4 linked regions of the Homo sapiens genome follow. The protein of the gene in region 3 interacts with the protein of the main gene of each other region in a pairwise test. Each region holds a gene or a part of one and is shown on either strand. Other genes may lie near its edges.

The links.
Region 1: the proteins of MOS (region 3) and SSX2IP interact in binary tests that used the Homo sapiens proteins (3 or more experiments, as listed by UniProt).
Region 2: the proteins of MOS (region 3) and CCDC102B interact in binary tests that used the Homo sapiens proteins (3 or more experiments, as listed by UniProt).
Region 4: the proteins of MOS (region 3) and DYDC1 interact in binary tests that used the Homo sapiens proteins (3 or more experiments, as listed by UniProt).

What each region holds. Positions count from the first base shown.
Region 1 is NC_000001.11:84,680,444-84,687,474, forward strand, and holds part of SSX2IP (afadin- and alpha-actinin-binding protein), read right to left. Parts: intron 2,025-7,031; exon of another isoform or gene 1,755-2,024; intron 1,542-1,754; exon of another isoform or gene 1,385-1,541; intron 1-1,384. UniProt on the Homo sapiens protein: Belongs to an adhesion system, which plays a role in the organization of homotypic, interneuronal and heterotypic cell-cell adherens junctions (AJs).
Region 2 is NC_000018.10:68,892,063-68,899,093, forward strand, and holds part of CCDC102B (coiled-coil domain-containing protein 102B), read left to right. Parts: intron 1-5,156; coding exon 5,157-5,366; intron 5,367-7,031. UniProt on the Homo sapiens protein: During interphase, forms fibers at the proximal ends of centrioles to maintain centrosome cohesion. During mitosis, dissociates from the centrosome following phosphorylation to allow centrosome separation. Contributes to CROCC/rootletin filament formation.
Region 3 is NC_000008.11:56,112,423-56,118,983, reverse strand, and holds MOS (proto-oncogene serine/threonine-protein kinase mos), read left to right. Parts: upstream 1-5,001; coding exon 5,002-6,042; downstream 6,043-6,561.
Region 4 is NC_000010.11:80,346,737-80,353,767, forward strand, and holds part of DYDC1 (DPY30 domain-containing protein 1), read right to left. Parts: intron 5,882-7,031; exon of another isoform or gene 5,875-5,881; 5' UTR 5,866-5,874; coding exon 5,719-5,865; exon of another isoform or gene 5,701-5,718; intron 5,267-5,700; coding exon 5,165-5,266; intron 1-5,164. UniProt on the Homo sapiens protein: Functions as part of axonemal radial spoke complexes that play an important part in the motility of sperm and cilia. Plays a crucial role during acrosome biogenesis.

The sequences.
Region 1 (7,031 bases), on a different chromosome or scaffold from region 3:
ATTTAGTTACCAAATTTCTTTAATAATTTTATTAAATAAACTTATGCATGTAGAGGGCTTAAAAAAAGGTCATGGGTACATGGTAAGTGCTCAATAAATGCTAGCTATTATTAGCTATTTTACTCTTGGAAAGACTTCCATGATATTTTGTTAAGTAATGTAAAAAAGTTACAAAACCATATCTAATATGAGCTTATTTAGTCCTCAGGAAAAAAAAACAAATATCAGTAGATATGTACAGGCATAAATTCTGCTCTATAAACACAAAAGTTGGTATAAGGACAGAAAAAATTGCAAGGAAAAACCAACTTAAAAAATAGGGAAAAGGCAAGGGCAGGACTTTCATTCCTTTCTTTATGTACTTTCATGCACAAAAATATAACTTTTATTTTATTGTGTCTTCCAAATTTTCTATAAATGAAAGTGTTTTTCATATTAAGAAAAAAAATTTATGTTTTTAAAAGGCAATTATGGTGATGATAAGCACAGGAAATGGGGATAAACAGCACCATTCTGAACCACCAAAACCAATGGTAGAATGGCATGAGTGATAAAAAATGCATAAAATAAAACAGCAAGCAGTCTTGTTGGGCAAAAACTGGTTAGAAAATTATACAAATGTCCTACAGTTTTTTAAGATAGTCAATTATGTAAGGGAAATAGCACTTTACCAGAGATCAGTAGTTTGTTGTTTTAAAGGGCAATTCCAACAGTATACAAATATTTGAAATGTGTAAATCTTTCCACTAAACAATCATACTTCTAGGCATATAAGAGAGCAAGCATAATATATATTGAGGACATTGTTGAATTGCAGTATTATTTGAAATGGCAAAAAACTAGAGACAATCTTAATATCCATCATGGACAAACTGTTAAAAACCAACACATATGGTACAGCCAGGCTATTCTGGGATTATTAAAGATTAAAGCACATATGCATGTATAGCACAAAAAAAGAAGTTACAGGTTAATTAGAACAGTATGATCACCATTTTTTGTTAACTCAAACTACCTATATATATTTAGGGGAAAGTTCTGGAAAAGTTACAAAATGTCACAAATGACACTTCTTGGGATGGAATAATTTGGGTACAGGGAGGGGTAGAAGAGCAGGGCTTTCACCTCTTCCATAGCATATCTTTATATAGCTTGAATGTTATAGGAGCATGTATTATTCTGTAAAATTTTTAGCAGCAGAGTATTCAAGCACAATTAAATGAGATAATGTGTGAAAGTACTCTTAGCTCAATCCCAAAAAGTAGCAGCCCTGTCCTTGAGTGGAAATCTCGACTTAGACAAATCCCACCAATCAGGTACACTTCTAGCACCTGTTCCACATATGTACGCATACCCATGAGCAAGGGTAATGCAGTCTTCATACCTGAGGGAATGTCTGTGGGAATCTGGCCCATCAGGAAGACAGGGAACAGAAATACAGAGGCCAGACTTTTCCCCAACTATCATCAAGGGCAAAGCCATGGAGTACTGGCAGACCTGGCAAAAGTGGACTCTCCCCCTGGCTTAATGAACAATCCAACCTTGGTAGGAGGAAAGAGGGAAATTGACTTTATTAACACCCTCTTCAAAAACAAATGCTCTTCATCTTTCAACCTTCAATGAATGAAATTACTAAGAAGGTGCATTTCCGCTTCAAGAGAGCAGCTCACAAAGTTAAATACGGTAGGGACTTAATCTATGTACACCATCTGATATTCCATTATATACTGACTTTTTATTGCTAATGTTTTCACCTGTTTTGGACTTGGCTGCCAATTAAACTGTTAGTTTTCCAGGGCGCTGTCACTTCAGGGAAGCTGCACAGGGTACTGAGAGAGCGCTGGACTGAGTAGCATCAGAGGCCATGGTTCTCAGCAACACTTCTGTTATGTACTGAGAAACCTTGAACCGGTCATAATTTCTTTGGGTTTCAATTATGAAGTCAAACTAGATGACCTTTAAAGAATTTCAAGTTCTATTATCTTTTGATTTTTACATTTCTCATAGGACCCAATATGGAACTGAGTACAGCTATTTATATCAAAATTATTTTGTCTTCACTTTTTTTTTTTTTTTTGAGACGGAGTCTTGCTCTGTTGCCCAGGCTGGAGTGCAGTGGGGTGTGATCTCAGCTCACTGCAACCTCTGCTTCCTGGGTTCAAGCAATTCTCCTGCCTTGACCTCCCGAGTAGCTGGGACTACAGGCGCATGCCACCGCACCTGCTAATTTTTGTATTTTTAGTAGAGATGGGGTTTCACCATGTTGGCCAGACTGGTCTCGAATTCCTGACCTCGTGATCCTCCCACCTTGGCCTCCAAAATGCTGGGATTACAGGTGTGAGCCATCACGCACTGCCTTTTCTTCACATTTTTATAACAATGTGCACACATTGTCTTTACAACCCAATGTTTAGCAAATGAGATTCTACCTAATTTTAATAACAATAAAATAATTTATTAAGCATGTAGCAATTACTTGGAACAATTCTAAGCATTTTATGTGTACGAACTTATTCAATCTTACAATGATCCAAATACTTTCCCCCATTACAGATAAGGAAACTGAAGCCTGGAGTTTTCTTGACCTAGGATACAGAGCTGGAACATGACAAAGCCAAAATTCAAACCCTGGTAGTCTAGCACATTTAACATTACACCCTACTATCTTTAGTACAGGAGAGGGGGAAGGATACAATATTCAAGCTGCTTTTTTTTTTTTTAAGTTTTGGGATACATGTGCAGAACGTGCAGGTTTGCTGCACCTATCAATCCGTCATCTAGGTTTTAAGCCCCGCATGCATTAGTTATTTGTCCTAATGCTCTTCCTCCCCTCAAGCTGCTTTTTCAAACCGAACAAGTATTCTCTTCTTTACCACCTCACCTGAAACTAAATTATAATCAAATAATTATGCCAATTGAATAACTGGAATGGGAACTACACAAAAGCAGACAAAATATTAAATTCTGGATGTAGCAATTCAAAAAAATTTTGAAAAACCTAGCAAATATATTGCCAGGCTTTCCCTGCACTGCCATCCCTTCTCTCTGTGCTTCTAGAACACTTAACATGAACTGTATTACAGCACAGATCTAACAGGAATAAAATTTCTCTCCCACCACAACTGAGTTCTCATTTGGCAGGCTTGTCAGCATATTCTTTGTACCCCACTTCGGTAACAGGCATCATCACTCACTCCAAGGTTGGAGCCCAGTCAAGATTGCTGAATGAATGTCCAAGTTCAAGGATGTATTAGTGTAAGGTTTGCTGCTGTTTTAGTATGATAGACAAGTCAACACTTTGGCCATGCTGCAATTTGGAAGGGCTTTCAACGTAATCTTGATTGGTAACAGCTCAGAGAAGGAGAAAGGTGATTCAGGGTATGAATCAAGAGCATGGCAATTTACAAACAGTGTATCAGTTTCAAATTCTTCCAATGTACACACAGGAATAGCAGCAATCATATTCTTAGAAGATTATTAAGAAACAAGAAAAAAAAGAGGCACTTTTAGAAGTCTATCAACTTTTAAGGTTAAAAGTCAGCTAAGAAGTCCAAATCAAATTTTAAAATTACTATTTATTGGTATTTCACTCCTCAAATAATGAAATGGTAATAGCATCTACTAAAGGCATTGGAAATAACAAAGAAACCAAACATAATTAATAAATCTACTCATCGTTTTTTCAATGATTTAGCCCAAATTCAATCATTGGTTATAGTTGTCAACGTGTGGTCCTGGGACCAGCAGCATCAACATCACCTGACTCAATAAAAATGCAAATTATCAAGTGCCACTACAGACCTACAGATTCAGAAACTTTAGTGGTGGGAGAACCTCCACGTAATTCTGACAAAGTTTGAGAATCACTGCTGTGTTCTATAGAATGTGGTTCAGTATAAATTAGTATTCTATTTATATGCACTTTCAATTAGAGAACACCAAAAAGGAATTCTTATCTAAGGGTCCTACAAAATGGATTCCAAGAATGATGTAAAAGTGTTCCAAAGCACTAAATGGAGGCTGAAAATAACAGTCCTAGGGAATGCCTGGCTAAGCAGCTTATTAAACCTTAGAGGATGGGGGGAAACTCTGAAAAATAAACAGTTCATCAGCTGAATATTCATTTATCCTATTCACATACTCTACAGCCCAGCAAGTCCACTCCTAGTGAAACCCAATCGAAACTCTTGCCTACGTATGCCAGGAGGTGTGCACCTATACAGCAGCATTCTTCACAATAGCGAGTAGCACAAGAGTATCACCCTGGAAACAACCCATATACCACCAACAGGAGAATGGATAAATTATGCCATATGCACAAAATGGAATATTATGCAGTAATCAGAAAACTTCAGTGACACATAATATAAATTTCAGTATTATAAAATGAAAAAATTTTCAGAAGATAGGGCATGTAATATATACAGTTTTAAATTATGTGATGCAATAAAACTATAAAAGACACCGAGAGAATGATGAATATAGGATTCAGTAAATAGCTGCCTCAGGTGAGGGACAGAGGAAAAAGGAATGGAGGGGCCCACAGGGTTATGCACAGGGTTAGGTGGTACTTACTGTATTATTAAAACTATAAATGGACCAATTAAACAAACGTGTCATGAGCCAAGGAATATAAACTAATTCTTTACACCTGAAGTCCTTTAAAATGCTTTAAATACATATATATAAAATGTTCCTCCAATATTTCAAACAATTCTAAATTCTACCCAGTCAGTTTGGCTGTGGAGGCACCAAGAGCCCTGGGTCCTTGGCCTTACTGCCAACTCAGGGGTTAAAATGTTTTGGGTCCCAAAACCCAAAGCCAATGACCCTCTTCCTTTAAAAGTACAAGAACAGGCAATTTGGGCTAGAGTTTCAGAGGATCTATGAAGCCATCCATTTGCAAAGGATCCATGGATGGCAAGTTAATAACTCCTGTACTAGCTAATTATGTGAAACTGGTAGGAGAGAAGCTGATGATGAACTCAAGAGCACCTAATGCATGCCAGATGGGGCTCCATTAGCTGTTATCACTTAATCCTCACGCTAGCCCTAGGAAGGAGTAAAGATAGCACTGGTTTATTGATGGAAGAAACTGAGGCAACAGATTAGGTAACTTACAGTTACAAACCTGGAAGACAGAAATAAAATCCAGCTATTTAACCTGGAAAGACTAAAAACTAGCTATTTATGATTCCAAAGCCTCACAGGCCTGGTTTCCTCCTGACATTCAACAAATATGCTGAGCAAATGATATCAATTCTCTGAGCCTATCGCCTCATTATAAAACAACATGGCTAATGATGGGTTGTACTTACAGATTATTTCTATGATGTTGGCTTGCTTTTATAGTCTAGATCCTATGCAGGGGGATATTCCTGAAATTTGGCTATAGAATAGAAAATAAAATCGAAGGCTATAGAATAGAGAATAAAATAGATAGGAAAGCACAACCAGATTACAATTAACAGGCAAATGAAAAGTATAGGCAGTGGCTGGAACCCATCTTGAATTTTAAGTATCTACTTTACACTATTTAGGCTCTATATACGATTTCAAAATTATTTAGTCCTACAATTCTTTTAGAACAATATTTCTCTACAAATCTCCTCCAAACTTAATGCTTGCAAAATAAGTTCTATTTGTAGCACCGTGGCACAAAAATATATTCTCAGTGCTGACTGTATGCCAAGAACTACACATGAAGTAACTTAAATACTTTTTTGCTTTTTATCTTAATTTTTAAAATTTTTTTACAAAAAGCATACAATACTTTTATAATCTGAAAAAAAAATCTTTGAGACAGATATTATAGTAAACTGGGCAATTAATGGTCAGGGACCAGCTGGCTGACTTAGTCAGTGACTGAGGATAGTGAAGAACAGGTAAGAAATAATTCAGGACATGGTGACAAGTACACAAAAGGGAGGCATCTACTCTCTCACATAAAAACCTGTCTTTGGCACTTGACAGATAATAGTGTCATTTAGATAAAGGGAACAGAGGAGTAAAGTTAGTAAAACTGGGTTTGGGCAAATGTGTGGAGATAATGAGCTTTGTGTAGCTTACTGGGTTTGGAGATGCCCTTATGAGACATTCACATGGGGATAAACTCTAGGCCTAGAACTCACAAGACATCCGAGCACATTTAGATAGATGAATTCATAAAGAAAAAAGGGGCAGGAGAACAAACCCCAAAGAACATCAACATAAGCGAGTGAAGCAGACCCAGACACAAGAGATACAAAGAGACAGGGGAACGGACTTCAGGAAAGCCAAGGGAGAAGACTTTTAAAGAGAAAGGGTGATACACAGCAGCAAATGCCATAGAATGGGCAGGTTTTGAATTTTAAAAAGTGTTGAATTCGGTGATTAGTGACTTAATGACAAAGCTGAGGGGTAAAAATGAAAATCAGACTTCAGAAAGATGATCACCAAATAAGAAAAGGAAAATCACTTGTTCAAGAATCTCAGTTTAAAAGAATGTTAGTTTCTCTGAATGTAGAGGCTTTATTAGACGCTCATGGATAGATCTAGCATGACAAAAAAAAAATCCTGTCTTTAAAGTCTGTTCTTACTCAATTACAGCATTTTTATATCAAGTAGAAATATTAAGTGCTCAGTAAGTATGAGCTATTTTTCCAGGCATTGTTCTGGATACTAACCTATTTTTCTAATCACACCCCTACGAAGCAGGTATTGTTATTATCCTTCATAAATGCGACAACCAGGGCACAAGATCACATAGCTAGTAGTGTGGTAGATCAAACCGAAAATGTGACTCAAGAGAATATGAGAAAAGGATATGTGTGAAGCAAGAGTTAAAAGATGAGAACAACTGGAGTTAAGATTGTTCTGAATGTTTAACTGCTTGTAGTTTCATTTCTATTTAAAAACTTATTTTTGCTAATTTGAAAGACTATTTCTTCTCTCATCTCAGAATCCTACATTGCTAGAGTCTGACATTTTTATGTCTGACACCCAGATTCTGTACTGCATTATAACTGTGTTATTTCTCCTACTGAACTGCA
Region 2 (7,031 bases), on a different chromosome or scaffold from region 3:
ACTTTTTAAAAATCCAAGCTTTTGGGTAGGAGGATGAAAATCAATTTGTCTTATGATTCTTTGATAATTCCCTTAATATCAACTTCTTGCTTTCCTCCTGTCCCTTTCCAGGAAGTTTCTAAATGACAGCCCTGCTTTCCAAGATACCCCTTGCAATCTAGAGTGCTACCCATGACCTTGAAAAACCTGAAAACAATGACCCTTGTACTTTCTAATCTCCTTTATTACATTTCTGATAGTAGCTTGTGTTCTGGCTCTCCAGGTCTGAGATCTGTTCTCAGTTATTTCCCTGCTTAAGGTGATGTGGCTACCTTTACAGGACATCCACCATAGCGCATGTTTTCTCTTCTGCACCATCCCCATCTGACTCTGCTCCCACATGGTCTCCAGAGAAGTCTCTGCTGCCCTCAGACATTTATTGCACCTCTTACATATCCGTCAAGTTTCTATAAGTCTAAGCCTCTTTATTGTGTTGACAGGTTTGCAGCTACCAGTGATTTTATTTTTTTCTCATTTTTGATCTTTGGAGGTTGGCTTGAGAGAGTGAGATTTAGTCTGTGTTCACGTTCTAAACTATGCAATTTTCAAAGGATACTATTTTATAGCCATAGTCATCTATTTTTGTATTGATTACAAAAAATTACTTTAAGAGACTGATTTATTTGGATATTACAAAACAGACATCTAAATAAGTCTAGCAAATAAATTCAATGTAATTTAAGACTGAAAGATAAACACATTCAAATCTTGAGGGATACTGCAAAGCTTAAAAATAGGTATAACATCAATACATATGTAAGGAAATAGTTGTGTCTGGCATTAGACAATGGCTCTCATATCTCAATTACAGGGAGTGTAGTTGAACCCAGCTGCTACCTTCTGAATATTTGCAAATCAATTACTGGAACATTCACATTGGTTTTAGGTGACTCTTCACTGGCCTGCCAAGTGGCATATAGTGCATTCTTTTGGGAGTTTTCTCCATTGACTAGGTCCATTTAAAAAGTGATTGTCATCTTGGTACAACTTGAGGAAAAAGTAAATACACTATTTTGTATCTGAAGTGGCTGTTGATGTTTTCTTCTTTAGGAAATAAATTTATGACTTTAGACATTTTTGAGTTGAATTTGGAAGTTAATAAATATTTTCTCTAAATGATTTCAGTTCTCCCTCATAACACTAGGTTGTAGGAAAGAGTTTTCTTATGTTATAAAAAAGAAAAATTGAGGCAATCAGTCTAAAAGGAGAATTGGGACTCATCTGTAGGTTATTTTATTAAAAATCCTCTCTGCCTCACTGTGTTCACTACTATAAAATGTAAAACAGCTCTGGCAATAGCAGTAAGAGTTCAGAGCCAATGTACGGAGAAGTCCTTTTCATGTTATGTTATGGTAAGTCTAGTAACTGGATTCTTTTAGAGTGCTGTCTTAATTTTGCTTTGTGTGTAATCATTGTCATTGAAATACAGAAGGGCTTTTTCCTGGAGACTGTCATTATCTGCTTTCTCTTTCACTTAACAGTTATTTATGGAGCACACATACAGTGTGTGTCTGGTGCTGGGCTTATGAGCAAAATGACACAGTCCTGGTTTCATAAAGCTTACATTCCAGTTGTTGTTAATGATTACAATTGTCAGTATCTTTTCAACAATATCAAGCCATGGCAGTTGAAGAATGAGTAAATAGCTATGTTTAGAAAATGATCCAATGTTTTATCCTTCGGAATAATCACAATATTACAGTTTTTACAAGCAACTCAACTGATTCTGATATTCATACTTATTTTTCAGAACCAGTCCGTGTTTGTCCAGTTTCCTTTTATACCATGTTCTCCCCAAATCCTAACATTCCATAACTGCACAGACTCTTCTTGGTCTTGCACTGTTCAAACATTTTTCTTGCTTTCTGTGCTTGGTACACTCTGGGTCTGGCTGTGCTTTTCTGCCTTATTAAACTTCAATTTGCAGCTTAAATATCAATCATTTCCTCAAACAACCTTCTCCTTTTACCTGATTTATTGCAGGCCTTTCTATGACACTCAATTTTTTTTCCTTTGTAAAAAGATGCCCAATGTTACTCATATTCTATTTGTATTTTTAAAGTCATATATTCAGTTCCTCTTTGTTTCTTGATACATAAATAAGCTCAATAAATATTCATTCAGTAAGTGTAGTATTGGATATTTATGTACTTTTTCTCGACGTTTAATAAGAAATTGATGTCATTAAGTGAACAAATATTTTAGTGCTTACTGTACAAAGAATGTACTTTTACATTAAAATTTTCAGAAAACAGGTTTCAGTAATTTCTGCATTATCTGAAATTCATTTAATGCTAGAACACGCTATTGGTTAAAATTCACAGTTGAGTTAGAATTAAAATATTTTAGGAGTTTCTCTTCATCATCAGAAGCAAAGCAATGGAATTCTATTTCCATTTGATAAAATTATTGTAATTTTTATGATAAACTCTGAGAGCTTAAAATATTACCTGACTTTTTATTTATCATTTTAAGGTACATGCAATTAAATGCTTTTTAAGTTAGTGAATTTTCATATGATTCTTGGAAAAGAATGATGTGATAAGAAACAGTTTTACAAAATAAAAACTAAAACTTCTTATAATTTTATAAGACTTTTACTTTTTAATATATGTTATACACATATATTTATCAAATAATTTGTATGTTTTGATAAATCTGCCAATAGTAAAACATCAGAAGGCATTATTTAAGCTTTGTTGTTGCTACTGCTAAAATCATTACTTAAAAAAAATCTTAAGAGTTAAAATTTATTCATTCAGACCATGTATTACTTATTTAAAACCTTGGTTCTACTTGTTATCTGTTATTTAATGTTAAATCAATTTATTTAATTTTAACATTTAAAAGAATACTGCAAGTTCACAAAGACTTGACACAGCATATTTGTCCTTGCCCAAAAATACATTTGCTCTCCTTATATTAATTTTTCATTGCTAAGTTGCTGCCTTCTTGTGGCAACTTTATCATTTTTATTCTGATAAGTGAGGCAATGATAGAAACTTTAAGTATTAATCTTAACAATGAAAGTAATGGCAGGTACTAAATTAAATTGTGATATAATATTTTCACCTCATATTCCCAAACAAGCATCCCAAATGTCAAACTACATCATCTAAAATTTGACCCTTAGTTTATTATATATAATTGGTAAATGAGGTCTAGTGCCAAGAATGTAATTTTGGTTTCCTACATTTTGGAAGCCAGAACATCTCTTAGATTTGGGAACAGAACATTTTCTACAATAATGGTACAATTATATATATATGAAAAAGCAGTTTTTAGGCTTTTATATCATAATTTATTATGATACTATAAAGGATATTGTTGAAATGTAACATTTTTCTAAATGTTGACTAAGTTGTTGGGCTTTTAGAATTTAGCATGTCATAGCAACAGATTTTATAACAGTATAATAATTATAAAGTATGTTGCAATGAAGCCATTATAATCAACAATGTTAAAACAAGTAATTTAGAATTTTTATCCTTTTGAGATATTTTTAAAATGCCTCATACTCTAATCATCCTAAATAGTTTGCAAGGAATTTTGAGTAGTTGACCCTCTTCTGTCCCTACAATACCACAAATATGGTATTTGTGCTATTGTATTTATGGTATTATATGTATGGTATCATACTAATTTTACTAGTAAGAAAACTTAATAAGATAATAAATTTCTTGTCCAGAATTAGACAATGAGTAAATGGTGGGACCAGGATGAGATTCTAATAGATTTTCTACTGTAAAGAGTTACTCTGCTGTATAGATTTATGCAATAAATTACATTGATGTCTCGATATCCATATGCCTAAATATATGAGAGAAACATACATTTAAAAAATTTATATTACCACAGTGTTTCTCCTTTAAGTGTTACATTGCTAGACAAAGTGCTTTCTAATTACTTTGATTAATTTCACTTCTCACAAACCTTGTCAGATTAAATAAGTTGTCTACATTGGGGTAGATGAAGTTACCTGACTAAGCTTATCCAGAGAATAAATGGTGAAGTCACATTAGAATGCATAGCTCAGGACTATAATTTAGAGACAAAAAAGCTACTATTCACTTCTACTTACAATGTCCACAGAAAAATTATAGCAGACGAATATAATTTCATCTCATAATAATAAGCACTTAGATGTAATAAAACTGCAGAAAATAAATACATTTGATATTGCCTCTTTAAAACTTAAAGACATTAAAATAACAAAAACCAAAGGAGATATTAAAATTATCTTAAATCAGAATTTCTAGAGTAGGCTTCTGGTCATTGATAGTAATAAAAATCTCCTCATGTTGATATACCATGCAGCCTTGGTTGAGAACCATGGGAAGAGGGCAGAGGTTGACAAAACTTTAGTGTAAAGGACCACAAAGTAACTATTTTGGGCTTTACTACCTATATGGTCTCTCTCTCAACAGCTTAACTTACCCATTGTGTGTGAAGGCAGTTATAGGCAAAGTGTGAAGAAATGAGCGTGGCCATGTCCCAATACGATTTTATTTGTGGTATAGTTTGAATTTTATATAATTTAATGTTGAAAATGTTTTAATGTAAAATTTTAAAATATAAAATGATAAATTATATATATTTTTTCAATATAAAATTAAATTACTTTTTGCATTACTTTTTGGCAACTGCAAATGTTGCATAGATAGAGAGATAGAGAGATAGAGATAGAGAGATCCATATAGCATCTGTCTATTCCCTAGATAATTGAGTGAATGAATAAATGAAATATATCCAATCAAAATTGCCCATGAAATGATATTGTGTCTTCTCCACTGAGAATGTTTATCAGTTGAGAGTGGAGATTAATGTTCCCAAGAGCAGCAGTTCTTCACTTGACACATATATTTGAAAAATATGGTACATATGGCTGTAGAGATAGTTACATGAACCAAGAGGAAAAGTATATTTATCTACGGTTTGGCCTGATCTTAGGATTTTTGTATTTTTCTCATGTTTTCAAACAAATAGAATTTTCTTTTTAAAATTGTATCAGTGGACATATCCATGAACTTTTCTTAATGGGAGTCTGGTTGTGGGTGGCATTATCTTTTGGCAATTGCAAATGCTGCATGCTGCTTCTTTGTGTTTTCTGTGTGTAGCTAGAGAGATTGCAAGCTGAAAATACCTCGGAGTGGGACAAGAGGGAAATACTTGAAAGAGAAAAGCAGGGACTGGAGAGAGAAAATAGAAGGCTGAAGATCCAGGTGAAAGAAATGGAAGAGCTTTTGGATAAGAAAAATAGATTAAGTGCAAACTCTCAAAGTCCTGATTTCAAGATGTCACAAATTGATCTGCAAGAAAAAAACCAGGTATGGGTGCTCCTTGGAGCAAATTCTCACTGTCTAATCTCACTCTGATGCCTACGCAGAGTCTGTCTTCACTCGTACACGCCTCCACATTTGGATATTTCCTTTTGTGCCAGCTAATACCTGATACTCCTTGCTCTTTTGCCCACTAGGATGTAAAATAACGTTCATGCATCTGAAACAAAGTGTGTCAAATGTTAAAATATGACAAATCTTCAGACAGTTTCAAGATTTCCAAAAGGAAGAAGAAAAATGAAGTAAGAAATAGAACTTTCTGGTTTTTTGTTTCTTATTAAAGCTTTGTCTCAGTATTTTCTAAGCTAATGATCTTATTTCCAATAAAGATTTTTTCATTAATTCAAGCGACTATACAATAAGCATTTGCTGGTAGCTATGGTAAGTATCTGCATAAACATTTAAATTTAGCTGAAACTCACTGCTTTCTGGTTCTTTTTTGTCAGTTTCAGAACGATTATTTTTGAGCTAATGAAATGCATAATTTTTCAAATAATTTTTCCAGCCTGTGGTATAAATCTTAAAACCAGGATAACATTCAGAATTTAAATTTGGGAAATTTAATTTTGGATGTGTTTTATCCCCAAGCCAGTAGATATAGTTTATGCTATAGACGGACATTTTTTTGATAGTTTACAGATTTTTAAATGTGCTTTTAATGGCAGTCTTATAGTTTTAATGTGGGTTCGTGTCAATGTGCTGTAAATTATATTTACCTTGTTTCTATTTTTCAATTATATATAGCATCTTAATGCACAATTCTATTTCTCACTCAGTTTCTTTAACAGTTTTAAAAGGTGAATTTGATAAGTTCATAGTTTTGAGATATTTAAGTCATTCATACTCACATAAGCTCTAAAACCTAAATGGCCAGAAAAATTGAATTCCATATTATTTCATCATTCTTTCATGAATCTAGGGATTTATTGCAAATGCAAGATTAAATTGTATTAGTGTTTCATGACCTAGCAATGCAAATATCTAAAGTTAAATGTTATAGTCCGTGACCATAATTTTCTATTATATTGATTCATAAACTATCCATAATAATGTATTTGATTCTGACATATGTACACTGATAAATCTGTAGACATCTTATTTTGGAGATCTCTACTCTAAAAAGTGCAGAATTATCTCAATTATGGACTGTGGTTTGATTATAGAAATACTTTTTATTTGATTTATTCAAACAAGACAAACATTTATTCGTATTATTCTCTGTGTCAGTCACTGTTCTATATGCAGGTAATGAGAATATTAATCAATGAATCATTATCCCCACCCAGCATGGGCTTAGAGTCTATATAGGGAGTCAAACACACAAATTTTTATAAATAAAACATTATAGTGATTGCTAAGAATAAAGTGGAAGGGGACACAGATTAAGAAGCAATTGATTATATTTGATTTTGGCACCTTTCTAGTTGTATCAAAATGTATTAATATAAAGTATATCTTTCGGGAAAAATTGAGACCTGTTTGGAGCTGGCATTGGCGTAACCTGTCATCAGGGCACACCGAGTCCAGACCTGGTCTCTTTGACAATGTAGTTATTTGGGCTGGGACTAAGCAGAACTTGGAAACTGAGAGGATCCTCAAAGGTCTAAGTCAGTGGGTATGCTGATCACTTAGAAGACTGTAGGATTTTTTAAG
Region 3 (6,561 bases):
AACATAGTCTGGCTTGAGGGAAGATGCCAGTATGTGATCATAAATTGGACAAAATCATTCAAGACAGCCGCATTTTAATCAGATCAAATTTCAAAATTTCAAATATCTATAAGCATTTTATGTTCTTAAAAACATGAGAAACTTGCAAGATATCATTAAATTCAAAGGTTTCCAAAACCAGTTTGAAACACATTTGTATGTCTTAAAACCTTTTGTGAAGTTTAGCTGTATTTAGACAAGTAAAATTTTATTTACGTATCTCCAGAGTCAAAATACAAAACCCAAGCGATCAGGGCAAAGTGGAAGCAACCAACCCCAACCTCCCCGCATGGAAACAGATAGTGTGCGCTGGTCACATCCAGGGACGTGCTCCATGCAATCCACAAACTAAGATCTGCCCCGACCATATTATATGGACCATATAAAAATTAAAGTAGCTGTATATGTACTTTACTGACATAGAAACAAGTCTATGTTATATTGCTAAGTATAAAATTCAAATTTTAGAATGTCAATAGTATAATCCCACTGAAGTAAAAAAAAATTGATATGTTTTTCAAGTTTGAGTCTATAATCTTTGTATGGGAATTTTTAGTAAAGCGTATATATTCATCTACAGCTTAACTTTTTAGTCTTAAAAAAGGCAAAAGTGAAATTTCGACGATGAAATCCACGGTTGTAACCAGCAATACCACACTTGCACGGTTGCAATACTCGCGCTCTTCGCACTGTAACCTCTGGAATCCACTGTAACCTCTCGAATCCGCTGTCACCCGAGATCTCTTAACCTGGCGGTCCCCTGCCAGGACTCGGGCGGCCGTCAAGAGTGCGCAGGCGCAAGCGCGGCCGCCGTCGGTGGGGTTTTATGTGCTGTTGAGACTGCTGTTGAGCTTCTGGGCCTTTTTAAGACTGCCTTCCAAAAGACGACGTGATGACTCTAAAGAGAAAGGAAAATTTGTTGCGTACGCAGAAGGGCAGGCTGGGCGCACTCTGAGCGTCTTTCGGGGACCGACGGCCTCGCCCACGTGCTTCCGGGCACCAGCGCGCCCAAAGCCCGTGCACTAGGAAACGCACAAAAGCACCAGCGGGCGAGCCCGAGGGCGAGCCCACGGGTAGCCAGGAGGCGGCGAGGGCGGCTTGTCTTCCAGAGACTGGGGAATCAAGAAAGGCAGAGCCACCTCCTCGGCCCCAGCGCAGCAAGTGCAGGAGGCAGGGAGGGCGCAGCGCCCCGCCGTCCACGGTACCCGTGGAACCCGGTGCGCGCCCCGGGAGCTGGGGCGGCTCAGGCCCAGCGTGCCCAGAAAGCCAACCACGTTGGTCAGGAGGACGTTCTCCCACTATCCGCGATCCTCAGGCTCTGATTAAAGTCAAATTAAAAGGAGCTATCCGTTCCGGTATCTGTTGTTACTCTTGTGATAAATATGGTGTTTGATACGAAAGTATCTTAATAGTCATGCTGCCAATCAAAGAACAAAACACGTAAAGCCTGTGCGCTAAGAACACGAGAGCATTTCGCTCCTCAGGAGGTGCAGTTTATCTTGTCTCCTTTGTTTCATATATAATTCCAAGGAGAATTCCTTGTTATCAACACATTTTGCTCTTTGCCTTTGGGGGATGACATAGGCATATTGCATTTGATCAGATTAGTGTTAACCTTCCACCCACGTTTTTACTACATGCTGTACCATTAATACAGCAGGATTTTATACCTTTAACCGCAAAATTCAAGAGCAGAAAAATACTCAAATTGTATGTTAGTTTAACATGAAAACGAGTTATTTCAGCCCTGATAGGATACTTTTAAACCAATACTACCTAACAAATATGTTTCTTATTCGTATAAGCCCATACACATGGTTTTTTAAATGAGTTTTATAAATAATAATTAGCATTGAGGCCCTGATCTAAGTATTTGAAACTCTGTTACTCTTCACAACAATCCTGAGATGGGCATATTTTCCTCATTTTGCAGATAAGGAAACAGGCACTGGGATGGTAAGAAACCCAGGCCATCTGGCCCCTAATAGCCTTTTACCACCATGCTAAAGCTTTACCCATTTTTGAGATCCAAAATATTACATAGTGCACACATATTTGGTAACCAAATCAGGATTAAACATTAAAGTTAAGGGCCAAGCACAGTGCCCTGTAATCCTAGCATTTTGGGAAGCTGAGGCGGGCAGATCGCTTGACCTCAGGAGTTCAAGACCAGCCTGGAAAACATGGTGAAACCCCATCTCAACAAAAAAATACAAAAATAGTTGGGTGTGGTGGTGTGTGCCTGTGGTCCCAGCTACTTGGGAGGCTGAGGTGGGAGGATCGCTTGAGCCAAGGAGGCAGAGGTTGCAGTGAACCAAGATCACACCACTGCACTCCAGCCTGGGTGACATAGTGAGACGCTGTCTCAAAAAGAAAAAAGCAAAATTAAAGTAAGAACATAATAAGAAATATGTTTGGCACTGTGTTACGGGGAGAAAAAATCAATAGGGAGATAAATCCTGCTTTCAGGGTAAGTGCAATTTGCTGAGTAAAAGAAATATTTTAAGATACCTTAAAAAAGAAAACAAAGGCTGTTGTAAATTGGATATTCAATTAAATATTCTTGGGCAGATTGGCAGATGATAGATCTAATGAACTTGGGGTTTATAAATACACAGAATGCCACATTTTCACTAATACCTTATGTTTTGGGTAAAGAGTAAAACCAACTTTGAAAATGAATTGTGTATGCAATTATCTTAAAAATAAAGATTATATAATAAGTCACATTATCTTGCATTATGTGTAATATCTAGGGGGTTAAGGCACTCTCATTCTGCTAATATTCACAGCACTCCTATTATATAACCATTTCAGAGCCCTGAATTATAATCCTAACTAGGTGACAGTTACTGAGTAAATTTTGCAATGTAGATTTATTATAGAATATAATTGTATTACTTTTTCTCTATTCATTGGCATCCTTTTATATTTGGGGTTTGACACAATTGCACACAACAATCTTTCTACTAAAATATTCCATAGAGTTGGCCAGGCATGGTGGCTCACGCCTGTAATCCTAGCACTTTGGGAGGCTGAGGCAGGTGGATCACCTGGGGTCAGGAGTTTGAGACCAGCCTGGCCAACATGGTGAAACCCCATCTCTACTAAAAATACAAAAGTTAGCTGGGCATGGTGGCATGCGCCTGTAATCCCAGCTACTCGGGAGGCTGAGGCGGGAGAATCGCTTGAACCCAGGTGGCGGAGGTTGCAGTGAGCGGAGATCGTGCCATTGCACTCCAGCCTGGGCAACAAGAGCGAAACTCTGTCTCAAAAAAAAAAAAAAGATTGAGGCTCAAGCAGGTTAAATATTATACACACACTAGATCACATACTAAGCCACACAGGTTGTATAGAATAGAAATCCTATTCCAGGGCTTCACAGACCTCAAATTGTTTCTGTAAATGGTTCATGTTTATTAATTTACCTTCTCAAAGTCAATATACTTCAAAAACAGAACTGCTATCATTAAAATGTGGTTACACATAACCTAACACATAAGTGCTTTAGAAGAAGGGAACTTTACCATTTGATTTTTTAAAATATAGATCCTAACACTTTTGTGTGTGTGTGTTTTCTCATGAATATGGTAATATTATTGGTCCTTTTTCCAAAGATATGGTATGAAATTAATTTTTTGCTTAGAGTCAGGATCTTGCTCCATCATCCAGCCTGGTGTGCAGTGGCACGATCATAGCTCACTATAGCCTCAAACTCCTCAGTTCAAGTCTCCTCCCGCCCCAGCCTCCAAAGTAGCTAGGACTATAGGAGTGCACCACCACACTCAGCTAACTTTATTATTATTTTTTGTAGAGGCAGGTCTCAAATTCTTGGCCTCAAGTGGCCCTTCCACCTTAGCCTCCCAAAGCACTGGTATTATAGGCATAACTCACTGCACTTGGTAGAAAATTAATTTTCATTATAAAAATCAGAAAGAAAGATCTTATTGTCTGATGGCCAATACCCTGAATTTCATTCCAACTTCTGGTTTTCTACATTATATGTAGGTACCAGTGATTTTGTGCCATTTTTATTTCTTCAGATTTTTCCTCTTCTACAATTCTCCCATATGTGTTATTATTTGAAGCCCTGATCACAGCTCTGAATCATTTCTATTCTTTTGTCTCCCCCAACTCTGGTTCAAAACTTCGGTAACTCATTTGCTACGAAGTCTAGAATCTCTCTTGCAAGTGAGCTGACCGGTTGGGCCAAATCGCCTTGGAAGGGAAGGATTGTTAGGAAGTCAGTATGTTGCTAAGATGTCTTGCTAATTTGCTGTGTAAGCTGCATAGAGTGTCAGGGGATTCTCCTTTCCACTGATGAATTTAGGTGTGTGTTATGACCTGTATCAGTGATTCTATTTGGATTGATTAAGGTTGCAATTTTTTATCCATATGAATGTTGCACCTAGTTTTTCCCTGTAATTGGTTAAACAAATGTCTGCTGTTTGCATTTTAACTCTTAGCCAATACCTGCTGGAAGTGATTTAATGCAGCTGGAGAATGACACTAACAATCATTACAGCCTGCAAAGTGTGAAACAATTTCATTGTGCTTTGTGGTCTCTTTAGTCTGAGGACTGATAATGTGCAGCGGATGAGACTTGAAAAAAACGTATTTTATTATAATTTAAGAAATAATGTAAAAGAGGGGTGAGTTCTGAGGCAGCTCCATGCTGTTTGTCTGGCATGAGCTTGTTTTTATAAGAATTCACTTCAAGTGTGGAAGGGAAATGCTTTCATCTGAAAGGGATAGCTGTGCTTCATTCCGGTTTCTCCCTCCATCTGATAAAAACTCTTGCTGAGTGACAGCACAGATGTAGCTCATTTGGAACAAGTGAAGGAAAAGGAGAAAAGGGATGAGGTGGAGCGAAGGAGTAGTCAGTCATGTTTCCAAAGTCCCGCGGTTTCCCCTAGTCTCTTCATTCACTCCAGCGGCCCTGGTGTCCCCCTGCAAAGTGCGATGCCCTCGCCCCTGGCCCTACGCCCCTACCTCCGGAGCGAGTTTTCCCCATCGGTGGACGCGCGGCCCTGCAGCAGTCCCTCAGAGCTACCTGCGAAGCTGCTTCTGGGGGCCACTCTTCCTCGGGCCCCGCGGCTGCCGCGCCGGCTGGCCTGGTGCTCCATTGACTGGGAGCAGGTGTGCTTGCTGCAGAGGCTGGGAGCTGGAGGGTTTGGCTCGGTGTACAAGGCGACTTACCGCGGTGTTCCTGTGGCCATAAAGCAAGTGAACAAGTGCACCAAGAACCGACTAGCATCTCGGCGGAGTTTCTGGGCTGAGCTCAACGTAGCAAGGCTGCGCCACGATAACATCGTGCGCGTGGTGGCTGCCAGCACGCGCACGCCCGCAGGGTCCAATAGCCTAGGGACCATCATCATGGAGTTCGGTGGCAACGTCACTTTACACCAAGTCATCTATGGCGCCGCCGGCCACCCTGAGGGGGACGCAGGGGAGCCTCACTGCCGCACTGGAGGACAGTTAAGTTTGGGAAAGTGTCTCAAGTACTCACTAGATGTTGTGAACGGCCTGCTCTTCCTCCACTCGCAAAGCATTGTGCACTTGGACCTGAAGCCCGCGAACATCTTGATCAGTGAGCAGGATGTCTGTAAAATTAGTGACTTCGGTTGCTCTGAGAAGTTGGAAGATCTGCTGTGCTTCCAGACACCCTCTTACCCTCTAGGAGGCACATACACCCACCGCGCCCCGGAGCTCCTGAAAGGAGAGGGCGTGACGCCTAAAGCCGACATTTATTCCTTTGCCATCACTCTCTGGCAAATGACTACCAAGCAGGCGCCGTATTCGGGGGAGCGGCAGCACATACTGTACGCGGTGGTGGCCTACGACCTGCGCCCGTCCCTCTCCGCTGCCGTCTTCGAGGACTCGCTCCCCGGGCAGCGCCTTGGGGACGTCATCCAGCGCTGCTGGAGACCCAGCGCGGCGCAGAGGCCGAGCGCGCGGCTGCTTTTGGTGGATCTCACCTCTTTGAAAGCTGAACTCGGCTGACTGAAAACCTGGTCAAGATAAGTTTTTGTCTGATTCTATTTGTTTTTAAAGGAAGTGGAGATGTCGAAGAAAACATATTTGTAGGATGGAGTTTTAGAAAATAAAGTTACTAAAAACTCCTTTAGTCTCCAGTGCTTTTTCTAGGACACATTAGCAAAGCTACAAGTCTAGTACCTGTTGTCTCAGTACTGTTAGTAACTAATCTTATTCATATAGTCATGTGCTTTGCTTTCCATTGCTAGTATTTCATTTATTTAAATTTGTTATTGATAAAAGTTTGTCCAAAATAGAACTCCACTGCAGAAATGTCAAAATTTTCTATAAATCCATATATATCCCATACCTACCACATAAATTCCAACTATTAATGGTGTAGTTGCTCCCACACCAAATCAGTAAAAACTTTTAAAAAAATAAGTAATGCTTTCCTACTACTCCCCCCAGTAAAACTTCTTGTTTGTAATGACCTTCACTCATAAAAGTCATACACTGAGGTACATTTACATTCAAAGGAATTAT
Region 4 (7,031 bases), on a different chromosome or scaffold from region 3:
GGTGTGAGCCACTGCCCCCGGCCATGTCTCTTCCCTTTCTGATAACAGCCATCTTAGGCTGGTCACGGTGGCTCATGCCTGTAATCCTAACACTTTGGGAGGCCGAGGTGGGTGGATCACCTGAGGTCAGGAGTTCAAGACCAGCCTGGCCAACATGGCGAAACCCCGTCTCTACTAAAAATACAAAAAAAAAATTAGCCAGGTGTGGTGGCGGGTGCCTGTAATCCCAGCTACTCAGGAGGCTGAGGCAGGAGAATCGCTTGAACCCAGGGAGCAGAGGTTGGAGTGAGCTAAGATCACGCCACTTCACTCCAGCCTGGGTGAAAGAGCGAGACTCTGTGTCCGAAAAAGAAAAAAAAAAAGCAGCCATCCTAATAGGGGCGAGGTGGTATCTCATAGTGGTTTTGATTTGCACTTCCCTGATGACTAGCGGTGTTGAACATTACTTGTCACTTTTGATAATATACCTGTTGGCCACTTTTATATCTTCCTTGGAGAAATGTCTATTTAGGTCCTTTGCCCATTTTTTAATTGGGATCCTTTTTTTTTTTTTTTTTTTTTTTTTTTTTGCTATTGAGTTTGCATTCCTTATATATTTTGGAGATTAACTCCTTATCAGACCTTATCAGATATATGGTTCACAAATATCTTCTCCCAATCCATAGGCTGCCTTTTTGTTTTGCTGATTGTTTGCTGTGCAAGAGCATTTTAGTTTGACCTAGTCCCATTTGTTTAGGTTTGCTTTTATTGCCTGTGCTTTTGGTGTCATACCCAAAAAATTATTGCCAAGACCAATGTCAAGGAGCTTTTTCTACATTATGTTTTCTTCCGGGAGTTTTACAGTTTCAGGTCTTCCATTTAGGTCTTTAATCTATTTTGAACTGATTTTTGTGTATGGTGGAAGACAAGGATCCAGTTTCATTCTTTTGCATGTGGATATCCAGTTGTCCCAACACCGTTCATTGAAGAGACTATCCTTTTCCCTTTGTGTTTTCTTGCAGGGCTTGTCAAAAATTAGTTGACCGTATATACTTGGGCTTATTCCTGGGTTCTCTATTCTGTTCCACTGGTCTATGTGTCTGTTTTTATGCCAATACCATACTGTTGTAATTACTATGGCTTTGTAATATAATTCTGGATCAAGTAATTTGATAGTTCCAACTTCGTTTTTCTTTCTTAGGATTGCTTTGGCTATTCAGGGTCTTTTGTACTTCCATACAAATTTTAGAATTGGGTTTTTCTGTTTCTGTGAAGAATGCCATTGGAATTTTGATAGGGATTGAGATGAATCTGCAGATTACTTTAGGTAGTATAGACATTTTAACAATACTAACTCTTCTGATATATGAACACAAGATATCTTTCCATTTATTTGTGTCTTCCTCAATTTTTTGCATTAGTGTTTTACAGTTTTCAAGGTATAGATGTTTCACCTCCTTGGTTACATTTATTCCTACGTATATTATTCTTTTTGAAGCTATTATAAATAAGATTGTTTTCTTGGTTTCTTTTTCGAGTAAGTTATTGGTAAACAGGATTTAAATTTTTCTTAATGAGAAGAAATACTCCCAACCACTATTATCAAACATTAAATGGCTTTGGAAATTAGCTTTGGCTGCAGACTTGATAATGTTTCTTAATTCATTTTAAAATTACATGGCAAAACATCACTCATATGTAAAACTTACACTGCAGTAAACTCACTTCAACAACAGCTCATGTTGTTTGAATCACAAGTAACGTAAAGCTGCTTTATACACGTCCAGTGCTGTCAAAACTAGAACAGGATATTAGATCTCCGTTCCCAAACAAATTGTCAGTGGATGTATTTTCCAACCTCGAACTACAATTCCAGAGTGTTTGTAAGGCCTCAACGTAAGTGCAAAGGAAATTTCCATATTCTGAAATCCATTTAACTATGCAATTAAGAAGCTTCCATCAACCTTCAGTTGGAAGTGGCTATTCTACAAAGTAATGCATGCTAAAAGGCAAACAGCAAGAGAAAAACAAAATTCTAGAAATACCTTCTAAGGAATGAATATGCTTAATTTAAATTATACACACATAGACTGATAGCAACTTTTGACAGTAACTATGTAAAAAGACATTTTCAAGGATGAAATGCATAAAACCTCATTACAGATCAGCATTAGCAGATAAACTTTTTTTTTTTGAGGCGGAGTCTCGCTCTGTCGCCCAGGCTGGACTGCAGTGGCGCGATCTCGGCTCACTGCAAGCTCCGCCTCCTGGGTTCGCGCCATTCTTCCCCCTCAGTCTCCTGAGTAGCTGGGACTACAGGAGCCCACCACCACGCCCGGCTAATTTTTTGTATTTTTAGTAGAGACGGGGTTTCACCGCGTTCGCCAGGATGGTCTCGATCTCCTGACCCTGTGATCCGCCCGCCTCGGCCTCCCAAAGTGCTGGGATTACAGGCGTGAGCCACCGCGCCCGGCCCGCAGATAAATATTTTAAAATAGATTTTGATGATAGACCACACTAACGCTGAACTTCAACCAAGTGAAATGTTATCTTTTAAAAACTTTTTTAAATTCTCAATAGTAAACCTATCTAATAAAAAATTTATATTCAGTGATTATTATTTGAATTTCATCAATAAAACATTTGCAAAAATTCATTTTCTCTCTTGTTATTCCTACATAATATGCCATAATGCCTTCATAATATCATCAAATTTGCCTCTTGGCCTGTAAAGCATAAAATGTCTACTATCTGACAATGCATTCTAAAATAATAAATTTTTACAAGTAAAGATATAATAAAGTGCTTGATATTTTATTTGCAAAAGCTTTTAAAGGTAATTTCTTAGTATTCCTATATTATCACTACTAAGATAAAAGTGATGGGGTAGGTAGCTGAAACGCAGAAACAGTTTCAATCAACTTTCAGACATTGGTAGAGGAAGTTAAATAACTCCAATCTCTCAACAATAATGCAAAGTGTATTTGTTAAATAACAGTCAGATTGATCAAAACAACCAGCTTCTTGACATTTTCAAGAAACTTCCAAAACCTAATCCCCTTCCTCACACATGAGCAAAACCACTGAAAGCCATTCAAAACAAATAAACAAAAAAGCTCTTACTTCAAAACTAAGCTCTTACATAGAAAATGGCAATAAAAATACTTCCCTGTTCACAAAAAACTAGGCTTGTGGAGAGTGCCTAAAATATCAAGGAATTTCAAGTCAGTGGTACTGACTATGAGGACAACTGCTTTTGCAACCAGCAAGGAAATAACCAGAGTTCCCAACCTCCAGCTTACATGACTCAGAAGGCACCCAGAGGCCTCTCTGTTTTTCTTCATCTCAGCCACACTCTCTCAAGCCTTTCTCTGTTGATCGATCTCTCCTATCTATTTCTGCACACCAATCCACTCCGCTAACTGGCCATAACATCTCCTGTATAATATTATTTTCTCTTCCGCCCTACTACAATACTTAGGATTCAATGCACAGTGGATTAGTTCATACCGGTCAACATAATATGGCTAGAGAAACTTGTTATTGCTAGTATTGCCAAATTATGCATAAGTAGGATAAAGTAGTCGAGCCGAAGAGAGTTATGTATCTCCCACTTACGATGTAATTGCCTAGGGGAAGGAGAACCTCTGGGAATTCTCTTATTTTTGATAGACAGGAACAGATACCAGCTATAGGAGCTGTAAGAGGAAGGATGGCTCCTCATCCACAGTTGTGGCTGCTGCAGGAAGCACCTGGCCTGTTTGGATGACAGTTGACACCCAACTCAACACTTTTTAACCTCCCTTCAAGAATAAGCCAATGACTGAAAATGAAGACTCAGAAGGAGTAGAGTTTTCAACAGCCCTATCCTTCTAAGGGGCCTGCAGTTTTCTACCTCAATATCAGGGATAGGAGGTTAGTCAGAGAAGCTATTTGCCAGGTCTATATTTTTCTTTCTATCCACATACTCAAATAATAGGCTTCTTTCCCCTTTTTAAATATGTAAATTTGAGTCAAGACTCTGGGGTTAAGTATTATCTGGTAGAACTATGGAAGTGGCTTAAATTTAGCTTAGAAGCTCTCTATAAATTAAATCAGTCCAGAAGCCATTCTGGAACTTTCCTCTCTCCAGCTTGTACTCCATGACCCATCCCTTCAACAATTCCCTTACCAATATCTTCAGCTCCCTAATCATGCTACCCCAATCCTGCTTCAATTAAAAGGTCTGCCTGCTCCACTTCTTCACTCAGACATCTGGGCCCAAGTGAAGAGAATCACATCATCACATAACCAAATCAAATGGCACGATTATCAGTACTTGATCTTCAACTGCTACCAAGTAATGCTAAATTATATCCCTCAACTCTCTCTTCCATTCTCCAAAGCTGTCATTTCTAACTTCACCACTCTGCCCACACCTCCTACCTTACAACCTTGTTCTTAGCAAGTGAACATGGTGCCTACTTCATAAAGAAGACAGAAACAGTTGTACGCAGAAGGTGCTTCCACCAACACCATTCTCTCCTCTTTCCCTTGATTATAATCAAAGAAGTGCCTTCTCCCTGCCCAACCTATGATCCAGGCCCATTTCCTCTCATCTCCATGGTGAGCTGACCCTACGAATCATCCACTCTATTTCCTAATGTCACCCACTCACTCCTCCACTACTGTGCTCTTAAATCAAAACAAACACAAAAACATCTCTCCTTGCTATCAAAATCTCCTTGAAAGCATTGCCTACATTTTCCACCTCCCCTGCCTAAGTCCACCCACCCCCACCACTCCATCCACACTGTTCCCGCCAAATTACGGTGGCCTCTCATGAACACTTTTCCATTCAGCAATAGATATGGTTGACCACTCAGATCTCACCAAAACAGTCTTTCCCTTTGCCTTCTGTGACAGCACACTCTGTATTTTCCTCTTACCTGGAGGTATGGCATCTTTTGTATCAGCAACAACAGTGTGGAAAGGAATGTGTATATGTGTATACAAGAATGCACTCAGGAAAACTCATGGCTGCTGCTTCTCCAGCAAAGAAGACACACACATCCATAAAGATGAAGATATTAGGAAGCCATATCTAAATAACTGGAGCTGGGAAGTTTATCAACATTTAGGCTGTGCCATGCTGAGGTTGGCATCGTTAATTCCAGTCCCCTCTGAACTCTCCTACTTGCCTCACCTGCTGAAGTAAGAGCTCCTCTGCTTTGAGCCTCTCCATCATTTCCTGCTCCATCAGAGCTAATTCTCTTTCACGCTCCAGCTTGGCCATTTCCTTTTGTCTCTAGCATTGTTTAAAAACAACAGCACACGACTTCTTAGCGAGAAAGCAATTTGTAAAAGCAATCTTGAAAGCACTTAATAGGAACAATTAGGGAAAGTGTTAAGCAAATTATAGCCCATCCCTGTGGAAATGATATAATAATTTGGGAAGATATTTTATCTGAATAATGAGCACAATATTAAAGTTATACATTGTGTATGATCACAAGTACATAAACGTAAATCTATAAATCTATAGAAAAAAGACTTCCCATGAAAGGAATTACCTAAAAATCTAAATAGAAGTCTTCTTTGGGTAATGTTTTCTCCTTCCTGCTTTTCATGTTGTTCAAGTTTTTGTATAATAAACATTATTTTTATAACAGAAAAATAATAATGTTAAACTTTTTTAAAAGCAGACAAGTTGGACCAGTTTTTTTTCTTCTAATTTCCTAGAAGGAGATTCCTACTTACCAGTTGTTCCATGGTCACATTTTCCTTATACTTGTAAATCCACAATGCTAAATATTCTATCGGATCCACTGGGCGAACTCTTGCCACTTCTGCAAGACCTTGAGTTAAACAGGCCCCAAGGTGCTTTTGAAGATATATTGACTCCATTTCTAACTCCTAAAAAGTAAGTGTTTTTGCATTACTGCAGGATATTTTCAATAAAGTCACTATAAAACTAAAGTCCAGTGAGGTGAACAAAGCCTTACATACACCCTGCCCTCAGTCATGGACACCTCCCATTGGGGGTGTCACAAGCAAGCTGGCCCCAGGAAACTTCTAATAGTTTCCAAAAGGGCTCCAAGGAAGTCACTACAACTAACATGGTTTCAAAATCCTGAAGGACTCTCAAGTCCAAGAGTCAGAAAAGAGATATTATCATTATTGATTCCAAGTTTACTTGATGCCAAGTAATGTGGGTCTCATGTAATCCTCACAACATACCTGAAAAATGGGTATCATCATCCCAGTGGGAAGATGAGCAAGCCCAGGCACAGACAGCGTAAGTGCACAGTTCAGGATCACACAGCTGGCAGATGAAGGAGACAGGGTTTGTACCCACCTCTTGATTCCAAAACCCTAACCCTAAAGACTACACTAAAATGTTCCTCCTAAGCCATGAGAGCCGTTTTTACAAAGCATCACAATAGTCCACCTTTTGAAAAAAAAAAATCCATAAATTTCCAAGGCCAAAGAATAAAAACTCAGCCTCCAAATAATAACATATGAAGCTCCTCACAATCTGGCCCCAATTTTCTTTTCAAGTTCACCTCCAGACATCATCTCTCCTGGCCCCAGCACACCCTGGGCTCTAATTCCATGGACATGTCTGGCTAATTTTTTTTGTATTTTTAGTAGAGACAGGGTTTCACTGTGTTAGCTAGGATGGTCTCGATCTCCTGACCTCGTGATCCGCCCACCTCGGCCTCCCAAAGTGCTGGGATTACAGGCGTGAGCCACCGCGCCTGGCCGACCAGATTGTTTTTAAAACAGAAAAGGAAAAATGGAGCAACCAATCTCTTTCAGATGCTTTGGAAAAATTGATCACCCTCAGATTACCCTTAATATTTTAAGAAATCGGCTGGGCACAGTGGCTCACGCCTGTAATCACAGCACTTTGGGAGGCCGAGGCGGGCGGATCACAAGGTCAGGAGATCGAGACCATCCTGGCTAACGGATCTCCTTCATCTGCCAGCTGTGTGATCCTGAACTGTGCACTTACTCTGTCTGTGCCTGGGCTTGCTCATCTTCCCACTGGGATGATGATACCCATTTTT